Homo sapiens: one gene and its partner. The protein of the gene in region 1 interacts with the protein of each later gene in a pairwise test. Each region holds a gene or a part of one and is shown on either strand. Other genes may lie near its edges.

What was found. Proteins that work in one complex are often made in the same cells at the same time.
Region 2: the proteins of PLEKHG4B (region 1) and ARHGEF12 interact in binary tests that used the Homo sapiens proteins (3 or more experiments, as listed by UniProt).

What each region holds. Positions count from the first base shown.
Region 1 is NC_000005.10:87,514-95,170, reverse strand, and holds the start of PLEKHG4B (pleckstrin homology domain-containing family G member 4B), read right to left. Parts: upstream 3,004-7,657; 5' UTR 2,940-3,003; coding exon 2,895-2,939; intron 1-2,894. UniProt on the Homo sapiens protein: Guanine nucleotide exchange factor (GEF) which specifically activates small GTPase CDC42 by exchanging bound GDP for free GTP.
Region 2 is NC_000011.10:120,339,413-120,346,435, reverse strand, and holds part of ARHGEF12 (rho guanine nucleotide exchange factor 12), read right to left. Parts: intron 1-7,023. UniProt on the Homo sapiens protein: May play a role in the regulation of RhoA GTPase by guanine nucleotide-binding alpha-12 (GNA12) and alpha-13 (GNA13). Acts as guanine nucleotide exchange factor (GEF) for RhoA GTPase and may act as GTPase-activating protein (GAP) for GNA12 and GNA13.

The DNA.
Region 1 (7,657 bases):
AAGTATCTCTTTTGCACAATGTGATTTTCTGTCAGGGGAAATTTTGTAAGATCAATCAAAAAGAATTCAAAAGCTTTGTCTTTGAGAACCTGGGCCCAGGTGTGAACTGCGGCCCAGAAAAGTGTCCCAGATATCACAACGACATAGGCAGCTTTCAATTTAGGAACATTCTGTTAAAGGACAGTAACATAAGTGAAGAATGCAACTGTGTTTCCTTGTTAAAAGCTTGTGTACATCTCTTTTCAAGTTTGACTCTAGGGTACTCGGAGAGGTAGGTGAGGCACAGATGATTCCTGTAAACAATGAACAGACTGAAGCTCAGAGAGGCTGAGCTACTGGCCCGAAGGACAACAGCTCATGGAGGGTGGATGTGCTGGTTTCCAAGATTCCAGGCCTGTTCTTTGGACAAAAGATCGGGGTCTGGAGCCTGTTACCCACTTCACAGACACCTCCCCGAGAGCCCCCCATAAGGTAAAGGGAAATGTTGGGTGCCTTCTGCTTACCAGAGTCCAGATTCCCAGGCCCAGGACCAACACCTTCAGGATGGAACCTGCCACCTCTCAACCCCCTCCAGCCCCGCCAGCCACTCATCCCAGCCTACCCCTCTTCACTCTCCCCCTGCCCAGATTCCCAGGCCCAGAACCAACACTTTCAGGATGGAACCTGCCACCTCTCAACCCCCTCCAGCCCCGCCACCCACTCATCCCAGCCTACCCCTCTTCACTCTCCCCCTGCTCAGAAGCACGTTGGGGTCTCGGGTCAGACAAAGTCTGAGGCTCTGTCTTCAACAGCATGGTGGAAGAAGGGAGCCCCTCACCACACACGTGGCACCTGAGGTCTTGGCTGGACCCAACAGCACTGGCCTGTCCACAGGGAGCACCTGCCCTGCCAGGTGTGGGGCGACCCAGGTGGGGAACAGAACCGCTGCCGCAGGGCACAGAAGCACTGATGCTGTATCAGCCAGGAGAGGCACCAAAATTTCAGGGCCCTTGAGGGGAGAAGGAGAACCAGGACCTTGAGTTTGGCTCAAACCTAGCTTTGCTGCTTCTTGGCAGTGAGATGCTGGGCAGGTGTTGAAGCCTCAATTTCCACTATCTATAGAATGAGTAGCCCCACCTTGGAGGTCTGAGGTGAGAGTTAGGAGGCTCTAGATGGCCTGACTTTTGTTCAAACGCAAAGAGAGGACAAACTCATTCTGTTTGGAAGGAGGGAGGCAGTGGTGTCTGAGCTAGACTCAGATGATTTCCCACAAAAATCTCTGAGATCTGGGGATCTGGGGCCTCCTGTGTTTGGCTGGATGATACAACCTGTGAATACAGGTCTCAGGGAGCCTTGGGGCAAATTACTTCCTCAGCCCAGCATTTCTGGGCTACTTTACAAGTAACGAAGAATTCCTTTGAGACCACCGGCCAGCTTGAGAGCTAGCCAGTGCCACAGATCCCACAAAGGTGATTTCAGACTAGACCCACCCCCCAGAAAGGCCAGCAGCGCCCCTCTACCAGGATAAAAGATGAGAAGGCTCCGGCTAACACAGGGGACCTGACACCCTGGCCTACCGGCTGCCTGCGGGGTCAAGCCTGTGTGCTCCCAGCCCAGGCCACATCTGCATTTGCACACCGGATGCCGCACAGTGAAATAAAAACCTGGTATCTCCTCAGAAGCAGGAATATGAACCCACTTCTCGGTGGGGGGGTCACCAAACACTGCTTCCCAGTGGGTTGTGATCCCATAGGGAATGGAAATGCTGAATATATCACAGAATCTCGGAGACGGCGGCCTCCTCAAGATCTCCGAAGTTCCTTCTGACCCAGAGAGCCTGGAATTTTGTGAATTCGAGGCAGGCTCAGGGAAATTGAAAGCTAAAACTCACCTTTGTCCACATTACATGAAGATTTACATTAAATCTCTTCGGGAAGCTGAGAAACCTACCTTCCCAGGAATCTTGATTCAGGACCCACCCAGCTGCCTAAGGCTCAGTCAAAAGTATCAATTATGCACCGTTTCAATGACATTTAACTTAATTTTTAAATTATATGTTTCAATTCTTAATTAGACACCTAGACGTACCAACTAAACTTTTTAGGCAAAAGTGCTGTTGGGTAACAGGAGTAGAGTGTAATTACCTCACCTCAACCACTCTTTAGTTTCACACGAAACAGGGAAAGGCAAACCCAATATACTTTTTGCAACTCACATGAAAAACCTGAAAACAGCTTTATCACTCTTTCACCAAAGCTGAAATAACTGTCTTGTTTTACTAGCAAATGTTTCTTACTCAAATCAACTAGCACTCCAACACAAAAGTCAATCTTGGTATTTTTAAGTAAAAATTCTCTTTGTTCCGGGCCACCACAGATCACTGTTCTGTCCCACCGGTTTGAGCTGAAGAGTAACTTAGCAACTCTCAGTTTTGGCGATGAGATTTCAGACTCCCCTCCCCTGGCTCCCCTTCAGGCACCGAGAGGGCAAATCTGTCCAGAAAGCGTTATTTCTTCTCCCGAGTATTCACGAGGTTACAAGGAAAAGGGTGCCTGAAGAAGCTCCCTCCCGTTCCCGCAGCAGCCGCCGGCAGGTCCCAGGACCCACGCCAGGACCCCCAGCACGTCTGGGTACCCGCGCCCCCTCCCACCCCAGTCCCCGCGCCCGCCCGCCTTGATGCTCGCGCCTTCACCCCGCCCCTACCCCCGCGCCCCCACCCGCCCCTACCCCGGCGCCCCCACCCGCCCCTACTCCCGCGTCCGCTCGCGCCCCCACCCCACCCCTACCCCCGCGCCCCCACCCGCCCCTACTCCGGCGCCCCCCCCCACCCCGCCCCTACCCCCGCGCCCCCACCCGCCCCTACTCCCGCGTCCGCTCGCGCCCCCACCCGCCGCAGTCCCCGTGCCCCCTCTTACCCGGGCGCCTGGGCCGCCCCCGCCGTCTGCTGTGCTGAAACCCATGCTGGACCCTGGTCTCCCGAACTCCGACGCTTTCCCCGAACTCTGCCTGGTCCCGCTGTGCACTGGGCCGAGGCCGCCTTCGCCGCGCGCGTTCCCGGGGCCCCGCCCGATCCGGGCGAGAGAGGGGCGGGGCCGGGGTCTCCCCTAGGAGGCTCCGAGGGTCCGGCCGGGGCGGGGCGTCTCCCCTGGACCCGGCTGCGCAGCTCCCGCCTAGCCCCGGACGCGCCCACCTGGGCGGCTCCTCCCCGAGCGCGGGCGGCAGTGGCTTCTGCTTTTGTTCTCTCGGAGCCCGGAGCTCGGGGACCTGCCATTTTGTGGATGCCACGTTGCACCCGGACGGGCCCCTGGTTTCCATAACGTAGAGGCACAAATCTGAATGCTCCAGGGCAGAGGATCTGACCCCTGAGTTCTGCCAGTGTACCCGGACGGGACCCCGATTTCCCCTGGTCTAGGCGGACCAGCTCCAGATTTCTGCAGGTGTGGACGGCCCAGGCCCTCTCCTCCGTCCAGGGGCCGCTGTGGGAACTACGTGCCACCCCGCGCCTGGCTTGGATAATGAAGGGCTTCAGCGAGGGCCCCAAATTCCATCACCCTCCCCCCCCACAACTCAGGGTGCCTCGGGGTGTCTGGTGCTCTGGAACATGCTTTCCCCAAAGGTGCAATTTTAATGCCTTGATCTACAAAGAGCCTCCCAAAACAAAGTCCCTCTCCCGCCCGTTAGTCCAGGGTGCTCTGGGCACCAGCTTCCTGCTGGGAATTCAGCTAGGGAGTGTCTCATAAGGTCCACTCCGTCCAGGAGGGCCTCACAGGGACCCCACCTCAACCTGTCCCCTCAACTTGTCCCTCACCCCTACCCTGGCACCATCCCAAAAACTGCGGCACAGATGTGCTCATTGACAGATAATGCTCCGTTTTGTCACAGGTTACAGAGTGGATGAAGCTCAGGGACACAGCTGGGAGCCTCCCTCCTATGCAGCTCAGGGACACAGCTGGGAGCCTCCCTCCTATGCAGCAGGCAGTCAGTCTCCCTGGGATCTCCGTCGAGGCCTCCTTGAGTCTCTGTCTACTCCTTCCTAGAATCCCTGTCCACACCTCCCTGGGATCCCCTCGAGGCCTCCCTCCCTTGAGTTTCTGTCTACTCCTCCCTGGAATCCCTGGCTGCGCCCCGCCTTGATTCTCCATCTACACCTGTGTTCTCACTGTTCCCTGTCCTGCTTACTTGCTCTGCTTCCTAGAACCTCCAGCCCCATCCCTGAGCCCAGGCAGGGAGCTGACCTGTTCCTGCCCTCTGTGCTGGGTATCTGGGTGTCCCTCTGTGCTGGCCCCTACCTGAGGCCCCCAACACCCCTGCCACACCCTCCTCCCAGCCCGTCCTCGTGACAGTACTGCCCACGGTGCTGTCCAGGATGGGAGCCACCTTTCTAAGCCTGTGTGGCCCCACAGCTCCTGCCAGAGCAGGACCCAAGAATGCTGGCATGCCTCCAGAATAAACGGCTTCATCCCTGTTCAGCACCTCCAGGACGGTCAGCAGTGACCCAGTGGCGCCTGGTCAGGGTGCAGCCCGGAATCTCACTCTTACTGGAGACTTTGGGGCCCGTGGTAGGAGCTCACCCCTGCCACACCTCCACTATACAGAAAGAAAGTGGGACCGTGTGGGGCTTTCTCAGCCCAGGAGTCCTTTGTGAGCTTCTCCAGCCCGTTTCTACAGATCTGGTTCTTTCTTTGCCATGGATCCATGGAATTAGGGATGTTTTCTAGGGAGTTTTTCCAAAACATGGACTATTAACATAGCTTGGTTTATTCAAAAAGTACTTACTGATCAACTACTACTGGTAGTCACAGCACAGCCCCCATCTCTGGGAAGCTGACATTCCAGTGGAGGGAAATAAACCAGTGGACAGAACACAAATCCGGTCAAGGAAGGCCTCTCTGATGGGGCAGGCTGAGCAGACACTGAGAGGAAGCTACCTGGGACTTGAAGGCAAAGGAGCCACCTGTGCAAAGGCCCTATGGGGTGGGGGGGGGGCAGATCTGGTGAGCTCACAAACACAGCGAAAGTGGGGACACTCAGAGGGGATGGAGTTAGAAAGGAAGCGACCTGTTCCGACTTACATTTCAGAGAGCTCAGCAGGCGGAGGCAGGAGATCAGGAAGTGGATGCCTGATCTTGGTGAAAGTGATGAGGTTGGGTTCCAGGGGAGTGACAGAGGTCATGGGAAATGGTCAAAGCAGGACCTGTAAAGGCAGAGGGGGCAGGACTGCTGAAAAGCTGGCTGCGGAGACAGAACCCAAAGAGCACAGAGGCAGACACTGAATTAGTGACCCTGCCACCGCCCCCCCCCCCCGGGGTGTGCCCTCCAGTGTGCAGAAGCTGGAGGCCATAATGCCACGCTCCGGGATCCCTTGCAGCTGGTGTGCAGATGTGCCCGGTTTTGCCAGGAGATGCACCACATGAGATGTGGAAGGAACACAGGAATCGGGCTGGACACAGCAGATGGATGTTGAGGTGTTTGGTTCTTCTGGGTCCCGTCCCTGGCATTGTTGGTGCTGAGCAGCAGGGGACGGGGAGGGGGGTTTCCCTAACACAGTCCTACAGCGTGGCTGGGTGTTTCTCCAGGGTTGTGGTTGTTTCTCGCTGTTCTGGTTTCCTGACTCTCCCATGGATGCTATGATCTACCCAATGGCTTCACACATATCCTCACTGCTTAAATTAGCTATAGCGGATTCTGCTGTCTGCAGTCACGAGTCAGCACCAACACAGCAATTCAAGGATTTGGGGCCTGACCAGCAGGTGGAAGGTGTTTCCACTGACTGAGATGGGAGAGACTGGAGAAGCATGTCTGGGGGGAAATGCCATATTAAGATTGAGATGCCTATTGAACATACTGAGTGGACTGACTGCTGTATGAGTTTGGTGCTTGGAGTAGCGGTTGGGTTAGAGATGTGGTTCTAGAACCATCTACCACACAGTTGTGTCTAGACAGGTGGAACTAAGTGTGTGGACAGAGGGGAGGAGGAACCAGGACTGGGCCAGGAAATGTGTCCATGCTTAGAAGTCACAAGAGTAGATAGATCTCTTTCACAAACTCTTTTTAAAAACTGGAATGGAGGGACCGCTTCCTAACATATGGTAGGAGGCCAGCCCTTCTCAGATACCAAAGCCAGATGAAGACATTGTGAGTAAAGAAAAACTACACACCAATATCCCTTATGACTACAGATGCAAAAAGCCTCAAAAGAAAGTCAGGGAATAGTATGTTAAAAGGACTATTCACCATGACCGAGTGGGATTTATCCCAAGAACACAGGGGTGGTTCAATATAAGAAAATCAGTCAATGTCGTGCACTGCAGTAGCAGCACGAAGGGAGAAAACCCACACGATCATCTCAATCGATGCAGAAAGGGCTTCTGAAAATGCAATACCCTTTCAGAAAAAAAGTTCTTGGAAAACAAGGATGGGAGAAAATTCCTCAAGTAATACAAAGTATTTATGAAAAACCCACAGCTAACATCATACTCAATGGCAAGACTGAACATTTTCCCCAAGATCAGGAAGAAGACAAGTGCCCACTGCTGCCATGTCTAGTCAACACTCTGCTGCAAGTTCCAGCGACAGCAACAGAGACAACCAACAAAAAATAAATAAATGAAAGACTTTCAAATTGAAAAGGATGAGGTAAAACTCTATTCACAGGTAACATGTTCCTATATAGAGAAAATTCCAAAGAATACACAAAAAGCTACTAGAGCTAATACAAAAATTCAACAGTTACAGGGTACAAGATTAACATGTGAAAATCGGTATTTGTATTTCTATACAACAGCAATGAACAATATGAAAAGGAAATTAAGAAAGCAATTCTATTTACAATAGCATCCAAAAGAATTAAATACCTAGAAATAAGTTTAACCAAGGAAGTGAAAGATTTGTATGCTAAAAACTACAAAATATTGAGGAAGAAGTTCAAGAAACAAATATATGGAAAGCCAATGTCATGTTCATAGATAGAAAGACAACATTGCTAGGACGTAAATACTCATCAAAATGATCTACAGATTCAATGCAATCTCTGTCAACATTGCAATGGCTTTTTTTTTTGCAGAAATGAAAAAGCAGGTCCCCAAATTCACGTGGAATTGCAAGGGGCCCCAAATAGCAAAAACAATCTTGGAAAAAGAATAACAAAATTAGAAGACTCATACATACTTCCTGAATTTGAAATGTACCCCAAAGCTACAGTAATTAAAACAGTACAGTACTACCATCAGGACAGACCAACAGAATAGAAAAGAGAGCCTGGAAATAAATGCTTAACATAGACAGTCAAATGATTTTTGGCAAGGGTGCCAAGAACATTCACTGTGTAAAGGACAGTCTTTTCATCAAATGGCACTGGGAAAACTGGATATCCATATGCAGAAGAATGAAGTTAAAGCTCACCTTACACCTGTAAAAAATTAACTCAAAATGAATCAAAGACCTAAACTTAAGAGCTAAAACTATAAAACTCTCAAGGAAAACACTGAAGTAAATCTTCATGGCATTGGATTTGGCAACAATTTCATGGATATTAAAGCAAAAGCATTGGAAATGAAGTTAGATAATGAGTTTCATCAAAATAAGACCTTTTTTTACATTGAAGCACACTCTCAAGAAAGCAAAAAGACAATCTGCCAAGTGGAGAAAATATCTGCAAATCACATATCTGATAAGGGCC
Region 2 (7,023 bases), on another chromosome or scaffold:
TTTAAGAGCCATTGTATGTCTGCATCTGTTTTCTTGCTCTCTCCCTCATCCACAATAATGGCACAGCCCAGACAGGGGATGCTCCTTGAGCCAGGGTTCCAAAATAAGAAACGTGAAGCAATGCTGCAGTCAATCCACAGCTGACAAGGTGTAGCATAAGCAAGAAGAAAAGCAGTGTTGTAAGCCACTGAAATTTGATAGTGTTGCTACAGCAGCATAACCTAGCAAAAGAAGACAGATACACTTATTATGGAGTAGGTGCAAAAAATAAAATTATAGGCTGGTATATATTTTTAAATGTTTCAGAAGATAAACCAAAAAAATTAACTATTGTTACCTATGAGGAGAAGGTATGAAAACTAACAGGTGTGTAGGAATACTTTTTTTTATACCATTTTATATGATTTGAATTTTCTGTGTGTGTATGCGTGTGTGCGTTTAACCTGAGCAGCAACATCTGGGTAGTTGGATCATTTGGGCCATTTATTTTTCTTCCTTCTGCTTTTCAGTATTAAAAAATAAAAATATAATAAGGCTACCGATAATTACTTAAAAATGAATAAGAACTATTCTTATACCCTTGAAGAACTCACGTATTAGCTAACAATTTAGCTTTAAATAAAGCCTTCCCCCATTCATTGTTAATTTTTTTAACGTCCAAGGCTAAATACTGTATATATATATATATTTAGGAGTATGACATACGCCATTTCGTTTTTTTTTTTTTTTTTTTTGAGACGGAGTCTCGCTCTGTGCCCAGGCTGGAGTGCAGTGGCGCGATCTCGGCTCACTGCAAGCTCCACCTCCTGGGTTCATGCCATTCTCCTGCCTCAGCCTCCCCAGCAGCTGGGACTACAGGCACCCGCCACCACACTCGGCTAATTTTTTCTATTTTTAGCAGAGACGGGGTTTCACCGTGTTAGCCAGAATGGTCTTGATCTCCTGACCTCCTGAACCGCCCACCTCGGTCTCCCAAAGTGCTGGGATTACAGGCGTGAGCCACTACGCCCGGCCTGTTATATGCATTTCTATCAGTTTGCTCACTTTCAGGTTTCAGCAAAGCAATATAGTGTTTTGTATATGGATGGTACAGTTACTAATCTCAAAGGAAATTCTCACAATTTCATTATTTTAGTATGCCAGTTAAATTGGCAAAGAGGTTTGCTCTAGTTACAGTTGTTCAAGGGAGAGAATACAGTCATGGGTTCTTAGTTTCTGTTTCTGGATGGGCCAGTAAAGCCCCTTCCTCATCCCTCTTTCCGTTTTATCACTAGAGACAGAAACTAAAAACCATGGCTTCAGGCTGCTGAAAGCCTAAAACAAAACAAAACAGAAGAACAACAGCAAAATAAGGCAGGTTGGACAAGCTTGCTAGGTGTTAAGTTTGGTAAATATGCCTTAACCAGTACTAGAGCAAGGAATCTATTAAGGAAACTCTTCTAGGGTAAAATCATAAAGGAGCATTGAAAGAAAGGAAAAAAAGGGGAAAAATTCTAATCATGACTCTTGTGGTGATAAAACAACACTTGAATGGTTACAGAAATCAAGTTTAATAGAGTAACACTTTACTACATGAACAAGTTTTAACTTCAAGAGAGCAATATCTGAACATAGCAGTAACCTGCAAATGACTAAGAACATGTCTGTACTTTTCATCCTAAGATCTCAAAGCACTTCACAAACATTCATTTAACTCTCATATCACCTGAGAAGTAGTGATATAATAATACATCATTATAACCATCTATCCTGCCAATACAAAATATTTAAATACCTCTTCAGCAGCACTTGCCCTAAGAAGGTCTTGCTAAACAGCCAATAAAACAGGAAATAGGCTGACAGTGCATATGCCACCAACAATCTCTGAAAAGATCAGACCTTCACCCACAAGAACCACTTCCTCTCAGTAAACCACAGAGACTGTACTGGGCAAACCACAACATATCGGCTTGTGTCTGGAACATAGGCAGATAACCCATCTAAAATCTATGGAAGGGTATGTCTAAGCACCTTCACAGGATTTCTTGTGTTAGCAAGTGTATTTGGGGTATCTGTTACTCTTCTGGATAACATATAGCCACTTTCTGCATTACAAGATCAATTTCAGGTATCATTCCTTCAGAGGCTGATGAAGTCTCCAGTTTTTTTTTTTTTTTTTTTTTTTTTTTTTGAGACGGAGTCTTGCTCTGTCATCCAGGTAGGAGTGCAGTGGTGCAATCTTGGCTAACTGCAACCTCCGCCTCCCGGGTTCAAGTGATTCTCCTGTCTTAGCCTCCCGAGTAGCTGGGATTACAGGCATGTGCCACCTGGTCCGGCTCATTTTTGTATTTTTAATAGAGACAGGGTTTCACCATGCTGACCAGGCTAGTCTTGAACTCTTGACCTCAAGTGATCCGCCCACCTCAGCCTTCCAAAGTGCTGGGATTTACAGGCATGAGCCACCGCGCCTGGCCAGTTTTTCTACAACAAAATAATCTACATTTTTTTGAATCCATAAAAGATCTACAAAGTCCTCTTTGATCTTTTGAGTATATGAATGTAAAATCAACATTTATATGTAATATTTGACAAAAACTGTAGTATCAGAGTGTACCTTTAAATGACTCTAATGTGTTATATAACACCAAAAGAAAAAGCAGTGTGACAAGCAGCTAATTGAAAGCATTAACTAAAACCAGGCTCTCTTATATAGTTCCAATTTCTGCATGAATTGTTACTTGCAGTCCAAGACAGGAAACCTACTTTTCATTGGCCAGTAGATTTGCTTGTCTCTAGACACTGAGAAGCCACCCAGGCCTGTCATGTGACTGTGATCTCAAAAACCAGGACTCAGCATTTGAATTAGTAAAAGATCCTGTTTCGGTATGAATCTAAACTGCATTGGTGCATGCTAATTCAAGAGGTAAAGTTAGTGTATTTTTTCTTTTACTAAAAGTCGACACTATATACTCATGCAATTTAGGCACAGCCTCTGACCAGGCACTAGCTTCATAGGCTTCTATTGGAGTTAGAAGCTGTCTTATAGCGGTCTTCCCTATATGACTATCTTGATGATTCCAGATATTCTAAGTTGAAAAAGTAAAATGCTCTAAATTTGGCATGTTTGCAAATTTTAGTATTACCAAAATACAAAATATTAATATTAGCAAAATACAAAACAAGGACATCTATCTCAATAATTTGAAACTAAAATAGTACTAAAGAAAATATGCTAATAAAGTATTCAAAAGGTCTACAGTCTTACAGATTTTATAATAATCTAAATATGCACTTTTTCTGTTACACTGTCTTGTCATTAACAATTCTTGTAAATACAACAGCAAGAAAGTAAAATATTTCAATTTTCACAATATCCATTTTACTGAAAAAAAAAATACTGCTAAGCATTGTTATTTCACTAACATGTGGAAATAAGAGGAGACAAAACAATAAGGTAAAAATAAACCAAACATCGAGGAATGTTTTGACCTACAATTTAAGATAACGAACTGAAAAACCACTGGAAAAAATAAGAAACAACTTCCTGATGTATTTCATCATATTGCAACAAGATGATTTTCCATCAAAGGTGGCTAACATTATTTCTATACCCTACCCTTTTGTCATAGAATTGATAACATTTGTTACATTGAGGGTACTCATATTTGAAAGAATCGCTTTGTAAAAAAGCCTTTTAGAACATGAGTAATTGCTTAATTAGTTGATTTGGTAATCATGCTGTTTGTATAAATTTGTTTCATTTGACTGTGACATATCTCATATCCATCCTAAAGACTATCTAAAATAAAAGTGAATCAAAATGACCTTGAGAATCTCTTTACCCATATTTTTGCAGTAGGAGAGCAACTGAGAAAAAGCTAATGAAATATTAAGATAAGCTGATTTTTAGACAATGGATCAACAGAAAGCATACAGCTTGGCTAAGCAAAGAGTAAGGGAAGGGGACCGGAAAGGATAATGAATAACCGTCTGAAACATTTAGAATCATACAAACATAAAATGGGAGGAGAGCATTATTTAGCCTGGTACAGCAAGTACATACAAGTAACAGGACAACTTAAAAGAAAAGTTAGACGTAAAGATCAGGAAAAACTTCCTGACAGCAAGATCTATCAGACTGTGCTTCAGTCTCCTGAGGAAGTGACAAAAGCTTTATCCTCAAGAGATATTTAAAATTAGAATGGGTAAGGTACTAGAAACTATGCTGTAAGAGAAAAATCCAACTGACTTCATCAAGCTGGAGAGTTACTAAAGGAAAATAGCACAGAAAAATACAGTACAAAGAAAGACAATAATTTAAAATGAAAAAAAACAATGGGGGACTTGAGAGCCAGAAAATCTAGGTTAAAATCTTGGGTCTGCCCTTTCTAGTTTTATAATCTTGACTTAAAATCTTGACTTAAACTGTATGAATTAGCTTAAAGTGTAAATGACAGAAGCATGATCTGCCCTGTACTGAACTGAAAATATTGTAAATGTTAAAGAATTATACTACCACAGGATATCATTACCTACATGATGGTATTTTACTCAAAAGAAGGCAAAAATATAATTTTGTTGATTTAAAAATTTTAACTCACATGGCACTATTTTGAAAACCTGTAATTATTATAAGGGAAAGGAGCATGTCTTCAAATAAAGCTCAGGAACATCATCAAAACCAAGTTTTAACAGAAAAGACCAAAAGAAGTTAAGCTACTATTCTTGAAAATGTGTCATGGTCAATTTCTAGGAAACAAGCAAGTATATAAGAAACATTTCTAATAATGTCAGACAACCATGATGCAAAAGAGTCCCTTCAATTACCTCTGGGAACCAGTATGTTATCTTGCTGTTTCTGTGACCCGTATCAGTTTGGGAAGCAATTCATACCCACCACTGGATGACATTTAGAAGAGGCAACCACATATGTACAATGAAATATTTTCCAACTGTTTTCCCTGGAATCGCAATGCTCCACAGAAACATATGTAAAATTCACCATTTATGGATTCCATGAATGTTTGCCTCAAATTTCATTTTTTAAACTGAAAACTCAAACTTAGTTAAAAAACAACAACAGCAACAACAAAAAAAACCACTGGGCTCGGTGGCTCAAGCCTGTAATCCCGGCACTTTGGGAGGCCGAGACGGGTGGATCACCTAAGGTCAGGAGTTCAAGACCAGCCTGGCCAATATGGTGAAACCCCGTCTCTACTAAAAATACAAAAATTAGCCAGGCGTGGTGGTGGGTGCCTGTAATCCCAGCTACTCAGGAGGCTGAGGCAGGAGAACCGCTTGAACCTGGGAGGCGGAGGTTGCAGTGAGGGGATCACGCCACTGCACTCCACCGTGGGTGACAGAGCAAGACTCAAAAAAGAAAAAAACCTACATGTTAACTCGATGGTATATACATGTTAACAACCGGAAACCACCAATGTGTTAAGTGGTATTCCAAGGTTAACATATTTTTGTAATGATTTCAAATAAAGCTTCTCTTGTCACCTTACTGAATATGAACATCATATAAATGTACCATTAATCAGGAAGACTACAACACTGTACTTTCAAAAAAAGTTACTTTAGATTCTGCATGTTGACTCATGTAAAACTGTACAAGTGAATGTACTATTGCATACCTTTATGACTCAAGATTTTATACTGAACTAAAAAGGCAAAGATAAAACTGAATACAAAACTAACACTGTGATCTTTGGCCCCCATTTCAATTTTGTATTTATGGACTGGCTGACTTTACAAGAAAAGGTTACAAATAATTTCACCTTGCCGAGAGATGACTCATGCAACGTTGAAAATAACATATAAACATGAGTAGCTCTTTTTTTTTTAATCAAAACCATTATACAGCAATTTTGACAGAAAAAGTATCACTAATGAAAAGTATCATTAATTACTGGGTACAGGCATATAAAGTCACAGGTTTCCACACTCACTTTAAAAATCTGCTTAAGTTAAACAGCTCAAAGCTGAATTCAGTGCTTTAAAAAAATTGTATCAAAAACCTGTCTTTATCTATAAATCAAAAACTACAAAATTCATAAGCCCTAGCCAAAACAAAAGTCCATTTATTTCAAGGAAGAACCCTATAACTTTCCTACCTGTACTGTCCCTGAAAATTCAATGTTATAGACACTGGCCTGAAATCATTTACTGAGTCTACTAAAAGGGCATTCTCTCCTGTCTACCTCTCAGAAGAAATTCCAATTGCTATAGGACCCCTAAATTCTCAGGGATACAAGAAAGACATGTAGGAGGATTGGAAACGATTAGGATGTATTTTAAGACTGAATGCAGCAATCAATGCAGACTAAAAAGCAGCAATCAGACATTTCTACACTTGTCAAGTGCTCATTCTAAACGATGAAAACTACAGACTCCAGGGCTCATAAATTGCTTACCATTTTTTTTAAAGCTGTTTGGATATACTACATAGAAGTAATAGCTACCATGAACATAGTTTGAGTTTAAAGTCTTTTAAAAAGTTTGAGTTTTAGGTTTTAAGGGGTGCGGACTGGGGAGTAAAAGATGAAGGGAAAGAGAAGAGAGCAAGTTAATGTGTTGATTTAACTGCAAAATAATAACAGGATGTAACAGAGTTCTGAGTATCCAAAGTGACCAATCAGAGCCTAAACATAGCTGAATTCCATCCCAGCCCCAGCACGTCCCTAACACAAGAATAAAACCCTTATCTTGTTCAGCCATGTGTCGCCTGCCACAAACTGCAAAACAGAACAACGCCCAAAACCAGCTAGTCTGATTTCAACTGAGGACAGACAGACTCTGTAGTCAGAAGCACCACAATGAAAGAACTCTAACTCACACAGCTGGCCTGGTGGTTCTGCACACTCTACGAAACAAAGCCATACCACATACAGCACTTCAAACTTGAAAGGATCTCTATCTAAAAAGCTACACTGGTGCTGTTAATTTTCCAACAGTTCTAGAGTCAGCAAAATATACCTACAGTAAGAGTTAGACACTACGAAAAAAGGATGAGGTAGGGCTGACAGAAAGCTAGAAACT